Homo sapiens: one gene and its partner. The protein of the gene in region 1 interacts with the protein of each later gene in a pairwise test. Each region holds a gene or a part of one and is shown on either strand. Other genes may lie near its edges.

Evidence for each region.
Region 2: the proteins of HERPUD2 (region 1) and SPTSSA interact in binary tests that used the Homo sapiens proteins (3 or more experiments, as listed by UniProt).

Annotation. Positions count from the first base shown.
Region 1 is NC_000007.14:35,685,105-35,692,140, reverse strand, and holds part of HERPUD2 (homocysteine-responsive endoplasmic reticulum-resident ubiquitin-like domain member 2 protein), read left to right. Parts: intron 1-7,036. UniProt on the Homo sapiens protein: Could be involved in the unfolded protein response (UPR) pathway.
Region 2 is NC_000014.9:34,432,252-34,438,240, reverse strand, and holds the end of SPTSSA (serine palmitoyltransferase small subunit A), read left to right. Parts: intron 1-2,936; coding exon 2,937-3,040; 3' UTR 3,041-5,453; downstream 5,454-5,989. UniProt on the Homo sapiens protein: Component of the serine palmitoyltransferase multisubunit enzyme (SPT) that catalyzes the initial and rate-limiting step in sphingolipid biosynthesis by condensing L-serine and activated acyl-CoA (most commonly palmitoyl-CoA) to form long-chain bases.

The DNA of each region.
Region 1 (7,036 bases):
CTGCCTGCCTCCTGTAGCCACACTGGAGACACTTTTGGAGGCTAAACCAAATACTATGCAGCCTATTAATGATTAACATGGCAAACCTTTTTTTCTCCTTTGACAAGTTTTCTTTAAGTGAATTGTAATGTCTGACTTTCATTTCTAGGTTGAGTGGGTGGAGCTCTGGAGCGGTGGGGGTATGTGTGTTTATCGTCATAGAATTTCACTGAAAACTTTGTATAGTTACTAGATTTAGTAAGTTTACATTCTTATCACGTGAGAATTGATTTGAAGCATCACAGTTGTTGAGCAGCAGTTTAATGGTATCGCAAAGCCATAGGTAGTCCTCAGCATAGGAGTTGGAGTCCTAAAAGTTTACTTTGTAAGGTCATTATTTAGAATTCAGCACAGTTTGCTATTAAGTAATATTATAAAGGAAGTTTAGGTTTTTCTGACCGCCTGCAATGACTAAACATTGATTCTGTGTTTTAGTTTTCAAGTGCTGTTATGTTTAACAGAGATAATTTCTTGTGCATCTTCCTTGCACATATGCCTACTTTCATTATCAGTGTGTGGACTTAGCAGAGTAGGGCTCCAGTGCTTTGTAGGAACAGGAGTGCCCCAGTAAGTAAAAAGTTGATGGCTCTCATCAACATTGCTCTAATTGGATCTGATGGGTCAGGAGTAGGTGGAGGGACTTTGTTCCTGTGGGCAGTGGCTTCTAGGAAAATAAATTGGTGCTGCTAGAGGGGAAAGAATGGAAATTTGAGATTGTCCTTTTAGGATCCTACAAAGATAGGTCATATGTCTATATGCTGTTAATGGAATTCTGGCTGAACTCTATGAAGTTGTAAAATCTTGGGATCCTAGCTTCATGGTCAGATATTGATTTGACTAATCACAGTCTCCATATGGGTATATTAAATTCACTTCTCCCTCCCCTAGCAAACTTAGAACAAATGTACCCCTCCCCCTCAAAGCACATTTTTTTGGGTCTTCATTTATTTATATAACTAGGATTTTATTGGCCTAGCATTTGAATATTTATGCTAAGTGTGAAGATGATGGTAAGAGTCCTTTGCTTTTGTGAAGCTCAGATCCAGTGACATGTAAGTAAATAAGCGTAATAGTATGTGACTAGTATTATACAGGAGGGATGTTCTGTGTGTTGCATAGGAACACAGGAAGGGAATGATCATCTCTGGAGTAGGGGTTAGGGGAATGTGTAGCTGTTTCAAGAAAAGATTCACGGGGACATTTAAGTTTTCTTAAAGAGTTGATTACAGTTTTAAGCAGACAAGAATCAGACTCTGATAGCTTCCTTTTTTATACCGTTCTTTTTTTTTTTTGAGACGGAGTTTCGCTTTTGTTTCCCAGGCTGGAGTGCAATGGCGCTATCTCGGCTCACTGCAACCTCTGCCTCCCGCCTTCAAGCAATTCTCCTGCCTCAGCCTCCCAAGTCGCTGGGATTACAGGCATGTGACACCACGCCCGGCTAATTTTGTATTTTTAGTAGAGATGGGGTTTTACCATGTTGGTCAGGCTGGTATCAAAGTCCTGACCTCAGGTAATCCACCCACCTCGGCCTCCCGAAGTGTTGGGATTACAGGCATGAGCCACCACTCCCGGCCTTAACTATTCTTTTGGAGTTAATGTTTGCACTGATGACTTTGTTTTATATTAGTATATTACTTAGTAATACAGTATTAGGTAAAAAGATTATAGATCCTTAATGATCTGTGAAGGGAAAGGTGTTTTCTGGTTAGGAATTTAGGCAGTTGCCATATTTGTGAAAATGTTCACAAAGTCATAATTAAAAACCTCGGATGTGGAGTTGAGCTGTTTTGGAGTTAACTTTGAATGATATTGATAATTGGTTTAAGACTTGGTTTAGGAAATGGGAAGTGCACTAGTTTATATTACAGAATATATAGATAATTGTGAGTTGTAATATGACATTTGACATCACTTCATGACTAGTTTTTCAGATCCTGAAATTGGGCTGCACTGTGAAATAATTCTAAAATTTAGGTAATTGCTGTTTGGTGGTGAAGATACTTGGCAAGAAGACCACTTTTACTTGAGTTTCAGACTTTAATCTGAGTTTAGACTTAGTTATTATAGATGTAAATACCAAAACGGTTGATAATAGATGGATCATCCTAGAGAAAAATTTTAAAAATATGAATATCCAAGTCCACTTAGGTACCTTTCTCATTCTCTTACTATATCTGTTCTCATGAACAAGCAGTCACTAAGATGGACCTGACTCACTCTGAATTCAGTTTTGAAGGCAAACCTTTTTGGGGCTTGCATGGCTTGGCTCTCCATTTTTCAGTCTTGGGGTCAAAATACCTCTGATTGTGTCCCTCAGTTCTGGGCAGATTTCCTCTGTCTTTGCTGTTCATACTGTTAAACCAAAGCAGTCATTTTCTTATCTACCTCTCCTGATCAGTTAAGCAGGTTTGTGCTGTTTTTTCAAACTGTTCCTTTACTCTCAGATTCTATTAGAATTAAAGAAGCAAGAATAGAACCAATTGTATATATAGGTTCTGTTGTGAGATTATAACACTCCATAACCAAATTGCCTGCAATCAGAAGTCTTACTTTCATTACAGGTAGAAATAGCTTATATCATTTGAAATTTTATCTCTCTTAGTTTTGTAATTTCCTATTACCTTACTTAGGTCATTTTAAAAAGTCTACTTGTTTAACCATTTTGGAATTGTTGATTTAAAGGGGCTATAATCCATAAACAAAATAATTTTTGTTTTATAAAACTATTGTCTTATAAGATTTTAATACATTTAAGAGGGTTTCATGTCGCCTGGGAATATAGTTCAAGATTTTAAAACCTCTTTTGAACAAAGGGTACTATCGAATGTGAAAGTTGATGAAAAACAGACTAAAAGTTTTGAATGACTGCTCACTAAAATTTTATTGCTTAATGTATTTGTAGCCTTATGTCTTTTTGGAAAATATAATAACATTATTATGAAGGTAATGTTTAATCATTTCTCAATACTTTCCAGATAGAATTTTTGTAGAACTTTTAGCTTAAGTTTCTTTTTTTAACATAATAAATTCTGCTTTGATTGTCTAGAATGCTTTTATTTAACTGCTCTGACTTTGCCATTTACTAAGTGTTTGCCATGTGTACCAGGCATTATAATAAGCATTTGATATGCTTTATCACATATATTCCTCCTAGACTTCTTATGATGTAAGGTTTATAATTAGCTCTACTTTATAGATGAAGAAACCGAGGCTTGGTGATTTTTTTTTTTGCTTAGGTCAGACTCTAAGGAGTGGAATTAGAATTTGAACCCAGGTTGGACTTACTGTACACATCATATGTGATGGTTATGTATAATAAGATGAAGAAAGGCATTTAGGGACTCAGCCATCTCAGTTATATACTTGTAAACTAAAAAGAACCAGTTGAGCTATAAAAAGAGATTTATATGTTTGGCTGGTTTGTTGTCTAAAGGCTGTAGATAAATGGATAACAGCCTTACTATGGTGCTAACACTTAGCTTAATGTGTGGTTATATCTCTTTATTCTGATAAATTATAGGAAAGATTAGATGCATAATATCTTAAGACTGCAGCGCACATATCTTTGTCCTGTCTTCACAGTCTACCAGTTGGTGTGAACCATAGTCATATACTTTGACAGGCTCTATTGAACATCAGAGGTGTACATCACTTGGTGTGTGAATATCATATATCTCTACCCATGAGTGGAAGCAGTTAAGCTGGGAATATCTCTTTGGAGTTCCAGAGAACATTACTCTGTAATATTCTGTAGGTACAGTTTTGCTTACTGTTACTGCAAGGAGATAAGGGGTAGAGGCAGTTTGGGTGACTGTGCCTCTATTTATAGTGTTTCTGAATTTTCAGGGTTTTTAGATTGGATGCTTTTAGTGGGAAATGGGAAGGAGATGTGTTCTAGTACAAATTTACAGAATTCATTTCCCACAGAAATGATATTTTGTGCACTTCCTGGGACCCAGCTCTTTAAAGCTATTTGATATTTGTGACTGAACTATATGTAAGTACTTAATAGTTACTACTTTTAAAGGACTAGATTATAGTTCATTGAACTAACCTGTAAGTTGAAGATTGCCTTTACTGAACTATTAAGATGATAGATATTTTAAAATTTTTAATTAATATTTTTAAATTAGCATATGAAATTTGATTATGCTGAAGTTGGATATACTAGGAACATGATTTTTAAGCCATACATAATTGAAAGACCCATTTAATCCTTGACATAAAAAATTTAATCATTTGATACTAACTAGGTGACTTTCTTGAAATATAAAAGTATTGTTGGCTTTAAACCCATTTATCAGACTCCAGGAGATATTTTAAATGTGTTAAGGATGTATGATATTTGATCTGTTTCTGATATTTGGTTAAACATTAAAGGGTCAGACACTTTCAATAATGGCATATACATAAACCTTTTAGAAACAACAAAAAAGTCCAGGTTAGGACTTATTTTAACCTGTTATACCAGCAAGTGAGCTTTCCTCACCTTGGTTTTTAGCAATGTCTGTTAAGTGGGTAGCAGAGGTTTTCTCGGCCAGCTAGTTAAGCAGCTGTTTATTTGAAGTGGGATATTTCTGTTTCTGGGCCACTCAGAGTACATCAGGATGTTTCCAACTTGTTCTTTGTCTTATTATTTGGCTGATTCTGCACTGCCATCTGTGACCAGGCTTCATTTAGGGTGAAGTATTGGTGGTGAAAGTAGTGAACCTGATAGAATTTGCTGACTATTGGATGTAGGGGTGAGTACCAGGAAGAATAGTGGTGGTGGTAATGGAGAGGCCAATTATATTTATATGTTACTCTGTGGAGCCAGTATCTTATCATTAGAATCTTTAAATTGACAATTTAACTAGTACGTTTAGATTTGTGAACCCTGAGTCTTCTGAATTCTTATATTAGAAGGGTACCATGCAATGTTTTTTAAATTGAGAAACGAATGAACTTTTATTGTGTTAAGCTACTGAGATCTTGGGATTTGTTATAGCAACTATCATTACCCTAACTAATATAGAAATGGGTTTGTTTTGGTTTGCTTTTTTGAGACAGAGTCTCGCACTGTCGTCTGGGCTGGAGTGCAGTGGCGTGATCTCAGCTCACTGCAACCTCTGCCTCCTGGGTTCAAGTGATTGTCCTGCCTCAGCCTCCTCAGTAGCTGGGATTACAGGCGCCTGCCCACCTAATTTTTCTGTATTTTCAGTAGAGACGGGGTTTCACCATGTTAGCCAGGCTGGTCTCGAACTCCTGACCTCGTGACTCGCGCCCCCCCCCACCCCCCCACCCCCCCCCCCCCAGCCTCCCAAAGTGCTGGAATTACAGGCGTGAGCCACCACCCCTGGCCTGGAAATGGGTTTGGTTTTTTTTTTTTTTTTTTTTTTTTTTTGAGACGGAGTGTCGTTCTGTCGCCCAGGCTGGAGTGCAGTGGCGGGATCTCGGCTCACTGCAAGCTCCGCCTCCCGGGTTCACGCCATTCTCCTGCCTCAGCCTCCCAAGTAGCTGGGACTACAGGCGCCCGCCACTACGCCCGGCTAATTTTTTGTATTTTTAGTAGAGACGGGGTTTCACCGTTTTAGCCGGGTGGAAATGGGTTTTTAATCAAGCTAAAAGATAATGTTAGGCCGGGCGCTGCGCTGACGCCTGTAATCCCAGCACTTTGGGAGGCCGAGGTGGGCGGATCATGAGATCAGGAGATCGAGACCATGCTGGCTAACACGGTGAAACCCCGTCTCTACTAAAAATATAAAAAATTAGCCGGGCGTGGTGGCAGGCACCTGTAGTCCCAGCTACTTGGGACGTGACGCAGGAGAATGGCATGAACCTGGGAGGCAGAGTTTGTAGTGAGCTGAGATCGCGCCACTGCACTCCAGCCTGGGCGACAGAGTAAGACTCTGTCTCAAAAAAAAAAGAAAAGAAAAAGAAAAAGGTAATGATATTAGCAGGGCTGGATAAATAACATTATATTACTTTTTACAAGTCAAATTGAGTTGAGATCTCAAAGTCTCTGCTTTTCCTAATGCTGTAGCTTACAATACCAAAATAACTAGTTGAAAATTCAGTTGATTATTGTCATTTGTTATTAGGTCTAACACATGATTTTCCTGATATTTAAGTTATTTATTTATTTATTTATTTATTTATTTAGAGACAGGGTCTCGCTCTGTTGTCCAGGCTGGAGTGCAGTGGCACAACCCTGGCTCACCGCAACCTCCGCCTCCCAGGTTCAAGCGATTCTCCAGCCTCAGCCTTCCACACCTGCCACCACACCTGCTGCTGCCACGTATTTTTAGTAGAGATGAGGTTTCCACCATGTTGGCCAGACTGGTCTGGAACTCCTGACCTCAAGTGATCCTCCCAGCTGGGCCTCCCAAAGTGCTGGGATTACAGGCGTGAACCACTGCACCCAGCCCTGATATTTAAATTAAATTCATTGATATTTAAACTGAAGAGGCAGTTTTTTAATGGCATAAAAAATTTCCGGCCAGGCACAGTGGCTCATGCCTGTAATCTCAGCACTTTGGGAGGCTGAAATGGGCAGATCACCTGAGGTCAGGAGTTCGAGACCAGCCTGGTCAACATGGAGAAACCCTGTCTCTACTAAAAATACAAAAAAATTAGCTGGGCATAGTGGCACGCGCCTGTAATCCCAGCTACTCGGGAGGCTGAGGCACGAGAATTGCTTAAGCCTGGGAGGCGGAGGTTGCTGGGAGCTGAGCTCATGCCACTGTACTCCAGCCTGGGTGACAGAGCAAGACTCTATCTCCAAAAAAAAAAAAAAACAAAAAAAATTCCAAGTGTTACTTTTTACCTAGTTTAGGCACATGAAAAAATTAATAATGTTTCTGTTTTCTTTTCTGTTTTTTTTTTTTGAGACAGTCTCTCCCTCTGTTGCCAGGTTGGAGGACAGTGGCACGACCTTGGCTCACCTCTCTGCCTCTTGGGCTAAAGTGATCCTCCTACCCCAGCCTACTAAGTAGCTGGGACTACAGGCATGCACCAC
Region 2 (5,989 bases), on another chromosome or scaffold:
CAACCTGTAGTTGTTTAAGTTATGAGGGAATATGGGGCCCAAGACAAAACGATGGGAATTCCATTTTATCATCTGGAACGTTTTCAGCCGCAAGTAACAAAATTGAGCAAGCTACTTTAAGAGTAAAGGGGATTGGCCAGCTCGGCGTGGTGGCTCACACCTGTAATCTCAGCACTTTGGGGGGCTGAGGTGGGAGGATTGCTTGTCCCCAGGAGTTCAAGACCAGCCTGAGCAACATAGGGAGACCCCATCTCTACAAAAATAATAAAGAAATCAGCTGGGCGTGGTAGTGCGTGTTTGTTGTCCCAGCTACTTGGAAGGCTGTGGTGGGAGGATTGCCTGAGCCTGGGAGGTCGAGGCTGTGGTGAACTATGATTGTGTAACTGCAGTCTAGCCTGGACAACAGAGTGAGACCTTGACTCAAAAAAAGTAAAGGGGATTTATTAGTTTAGTATGTAAAAATCCAGTGGTAGGGTGGGATTCAGGGTTTTTTGATGAGGATTCTGACTCCATTTTTCTGTGATTATTTTTGTCCTGCCACCTTCTTGAGTCAGCTTTGTTCTGAATCTTGCTTTCCTCATGGAGGTAAAGTGACTCCAGTGATTGCAAGATTCCATCAGCAAGCTGCATATTGTAGGAGAGAGCATCTATGTTCCTGAATTCCTGGCTGAAGTCCTAAGCTTTGAGCTGATTAATCAGTTTTGATGTAGGGCATTGTTACCAAGCAAAAGAGATCCCTCTAATTGGTTAAGACCAGTCAGGGGTTATCCATGAAGATGGGTTAGTCTAACCAAAAGGGCATGGCTGCTATACTAGGAGGAGAGTGGATGTTTGCAAGGAAAGCACAAAGTTCACTCTTATCTATCATCCATCATAAAGGAAAGAGCCAGTGAAAAACAGGGAAATGGTAAGAGAGATTAAAAGAGGGCCTTAGAAAATACCTGAGCCCAGAGTAGAGTTTTAAAGAGTGGAAAGGATTGTTTTGTTTTGTTTTCTGTTTGTTTTTTGAGACAGGGTCTGGCTCTGTTGCTCAGGCTGGAGTGCAGTGGTGCCCTTCCGGCTCACATCAGCCTCCAGAGTAGCTGGCACTACAGGCATAAATGGAAAGGGTTTTGAAGAAGAAGGACTAAAACAGTGTCAATTCAAACAGCCTTTGGATTTGGTGGAGACCACCAGTGATCTTAGAACAATGCCTACAGTCTGGAGGAGTAAGAATCAGATGGTGTGTTGGTGATGAACAAATATATGCCAATGATATAGAAGCAGCAAATGTATATATTTTTCTTTCTCTCTTTTTTTTTTTTTAAAGAAATTAGTAAATAGAAGGCGGCAGTTTAAGGAATAACTGGATTAAGGGCGGTTAAAAAGTAAATTGTAAAAAAAAGATTGTGAAAGACTTTCTGCTCTTGTTTGCTGGATGAAGAGAATGAGTTTATGGCTTGAGTCAGGCAGTCTTGGTTTGACCTCTGGCTCTAAAGACAGCTTCCTGTATGGCCCTGAACAAGCTACTCAGTTTTCTCAGCTTCTGATTAGTGATGAACATAATAAACATTTCATAGGAAAGCTATAAGGGTTAAGTAAGATAATGTAATTGTGGAAGAGATTTGTCAACTAACCTGTTATACAAATATTAGTTGATAGTAAGCACATTGTTTATTTAAACCCTATCTTCTCATAAAAGAATGTAAGTTATTTTAAAAATAATAGTATGTATAGCTGAAAGGTATGTAGAGTTGAGAAAGGGGAAAGGCAAGTGAAAGAGGAGAGAGAGAGAAGAATGAGAATATGAATGAATTAATAAAGCATGACTCCAGTTCAAAAACAGTTATTCCTCTTAGCATCCTATGTAACTGTGCAAAGCCAAAAGCCCTTAGATTTGACATAATTTTTGCTAGCAGTATTTTGTGTGGCCCCAGAGAGAGGCCTCTTGTTGACTTCCATATATACAGTTTCAGTTCCTTTTGTAATAAAAAGAAAGGAACATGGTACAGAAAGGTTATTGTTTAGGTTATCAAGATTACCTTTATTTGAAGTTGTTGCAAATAGTAGCAATAGTGATAATAATGTTTAATAGTGATAATAGCAGTAGCAGTTGCTGTCATCCCTAAGCTAGTGTATGATTGATTTTAGCTTTGTCTGACTCTAAAAATACTTTTAGCCACATTCTAGTCTAATTCTAAAATTCTTTGATCATACATTCTTATTAGTTAAGTTGGTAGATCTTTTATAGTAATTAAATAGAATTTTATTCCTGTATATTTATTTCTTAGGTAGAACAGTATCACATTCTATGCTTCATTTTAAGCAGTCCTGCCGGGCGCAGTGGCTCACGCCTGTAATCCCAGCACTTTGGGAGGCTGAGATGGGTGGATCTCCTGAGGTCAGGAGTTCGAGACCAGCCTGGCCAACATGGTGAAACCCTGTCTCTACTAAAAATACAAAAATTAGCTGGGTGTCATGGCGGGCACCTGTAATCCCAGCTACTCAGGAGGCTAAGACAGGAGAATCACTTGAACCCAGAAGGCAGAGGTTGCAGTGAGCCGAGATCGTGCCATTACACTCCAGCCTTGGGTAACAAGAGCAAAACTCTGTCTCAAAAAAAAAAAAAAAAAAAAAAGAGAAACAAACAAACAAAAACATTTGAAGCAGTCTGATATTTTCAACTACACAGGGAGAATAACAGTACTTACTTTATATGGTGATAGTAAAGATAGAATGAGCTAAAAACAAAATAAAACAAAACCAGCTTAGAGTGGTGCCAGGCATGGTTGTTAGTGGCTAGTATTATCATTCTTGTTGTTTTTTTTATCAGTGCTTGATATAAATGAGAAAGCACTAAGTGAATGGGTACTTCAGCATAAAAGAGTTGTTGAAGACATGTGGAGATTTAGTTTTGAATAAATTAATAATAATAAGTTTCCTTAACTACAACTCAGATTCCATGCTGGTTTCCATTGTGGGGATGGCACTATACACAGGATACGTCTTCATGCCCCAGCACATCATGGCGATATTGCACTACTTTGAAATCGTACAATGACCAAGATGCGACCAGGATCAGAGGTTCCTTGGGGAAGACCCACCCTACGAAGTTGGAATGAGACCATCAGATGTGATAAGAAACTCTTCTAGATGTCAACATAACCAACCTTATAAAGACTAAAATTCATGAGTAGAACAGGAAAATCATCCTGACTCATGTGTTGTGTTCTTTATTTTTAATTTTCAAAGAGGCTCTTGTATAGCAGTTTTTGTCTATTTTAACATTGTAGTCATTTGTACTTTGATATCAGTATTTTCTTAACCTTTGTGACTGTTTCAATATTACCCCCGTGAAAGCTTTTCTTAATGTAACTTTGAGTACATTTTAATTGCCTTCTATTTTTAAAACTCAAAATCATTAGTTGGGCTTTACTGTTCTTGCTATTGTATGGCATATACATCTGCCTGGATATATTTCTACTCTTGACCAAAGTTTTGTAAAGAACAATATAAGATTTCGGGTAGGGGTATGGGGAGGGAAGATATTTTATTGAGAACTACTTAACAAAAGATTTATCTGTAAGCTTGAACTCAGGAGTACAGTTTTAGCTATCTAGACTCTAACAGCTTTTGCTTTAAAATTATTAAAGTGTTTCTTAATGAAAAAGAAAAGATCTTGCTAAAGTTAAAATAAGGAACATTTCACCTTTTAAATATTTAATTCTTATGTGGACTTATTTCCAGAAAACTTTGGTGATAATTCTTGAGACAAAAGGTGGTTAAGTAGCATTATTATGTAATGCTTATATACCATAGAGTTTTTAATAGAAGAGAAATCCATTTCCTCCGAGGGTCACTATTAACAATGTACTTCCTTAAATTTAGTTTAATGATTGTAATGGGTGCTGCATTTGCACATTGCATTAAGTTATGATGAGACGAATTGTTGTTAAAAATTATAGCAAAAAGAAATGTAAACTTGGTTAAAATCCTTTCACTCTTTGTATTGTTTTTTTTAAGGTTTTTATTCCTTAAATGTAAAATGACTACCTAATTTTTTGATGTAAATACATTAAATTCAAAGAGAAAAAAAATCAGCTGATGTAGCAGTATATCTTTTCCTTGATGGTTAAATATTGATCTAGTATTTATATTGCTGAATTATTTTCTGTGGAGGACCAGATAAGCAGTAAGTATGTCTTATCCTATATGTTTTGCAACATAAAAATATTGCTAATTGAAAAGAATTAGGCAATTATGTGTGTTGCTGGGTTGTTTTTTTGTTTTTTTTTTTTTGAGACGGAGTCTTGCCCTGTCGCCCAGGATGGAGTGCAACAGCATGATCTCGGTTCACTGCAACCTCCATCTCCTGGGATCAAGTGATTCTCCTGCCTCAGCCTCCTGAATAGCTGGGATTACAGGCACCTGCCACCATGCCTGGCTAATTTTTTGTATCTGTAGTAGAGACGGGGTTTCACTGTGTTGGCCAGGATGGTCTCAAACTCCTGACCTCCTGATCCACCTGCCTCGGCCTCCCAAAGTGCTGGGTTTACAGGCGTGAGCCACCGCGCCCGGCCAAAATTGAGGTATTTTTTGCCCTACGTTTTAAGGACTAGACTTTTGAAGTATTTTATAGTCTAGAGGTCTCAAGTAATATATATGTGTTTAATATTTTTAGAGCCAATTGATACCACAATTAGATAGGAGTAGTGAGAATAATATGGAATTACTTGGTTTGAAGTAGTTAAAAATTGGATATGGTTATATCTGAGCTGTAGTCATATTATCTCAAGAAAAATAATACGAGGATTTAACATAAGATTTGTTCTATTAATGCCCAAATTTGGCTTTCCTCTACTATCCCCCATAGAGAACCACTAACAAGTGGATGTCTAATATTCCTCTGGTGAGTTGAAGGCAGGAGAAGTTGAGAATCATTAGTTTCAATGAGTATCCAGGTGACCTATCCTGGCCCTCTACTCAGAAACCGGCAATTTGTCTTCACTCTGAGATTCATTAAATTGCTGTTGTATAACTGATGGTTATTATGAACACTGACCTGTGAGACATATGGAAGATAAAGTTTGGTCTTACAGGAAATCTTGAGGAGAGTCAAAAGAGAAATGGGAGATGTCTCTTGAGAGGTGATCAGAGAAGTTTATGCTCACTGTCTGATGCAAATGTCTGGTCTATTTGTTAGTAAATAACAGGGAAATCATTTTCACTTTTTGTTAAAAATAAGGTATTTACAAGCATACCTTGTAGTTATTGTGGGTTCAGTTTCAGACCACTGCAATAAAGTGAATATCTCAATAAAGTGAGTCACATGAAGTTTTTTGGTTTTCCCCTGCATATAAAAGTTACATTTACACCATCCTGTAGTCTATTAAGTGTGCAGTAGCATTATGGCTAAAAAAAAAAAACACCCAATATACCTATCTTAATTAAAGAATTATTTATTGCTGAAAAAAGCTAATGATTATTTGAGCCTTCAACAAGTCATAATTTTTTGTTGGTGGAGGGTCTTGCCTTGATGTTGATGGCTGCTGACTGATCTGGGTCATGGTTGCGGAAGGTTGGGGTGGCTATGGCAATTTTTAAAAATAAGACAACAATAAAGTTTGCTGCATTGATCAACTCTTCATTCATGAAAGATTTCTCTGTAGCATGTAAGCTATTTGATAGCCTTTTACCCACAATGGAACTTCCTCCAAAATTGGAAGCAATCCTTTCAAACCCTGCTGCTGCTTTATCAACTAAGTTTATAAAATATCCTAAGTCCTTCATTGTAATTTCAACAATGTTCATAGCACCTTCACCAGGTGTATATGCCATCTCAAGAAACCACTTTCTTTGCTCATCCATAAAAGGCAAAACCTTGTCTGTTCAAGTTTTACCGTGAGATTGCAGTAATTCACTCACATCATCAGGCTCCATATGTAGTTCTCTTGCTATTTTTAGCATATCTACAGTTAACTTCCTCCACTGAAATTTTGAACCCCTCCAA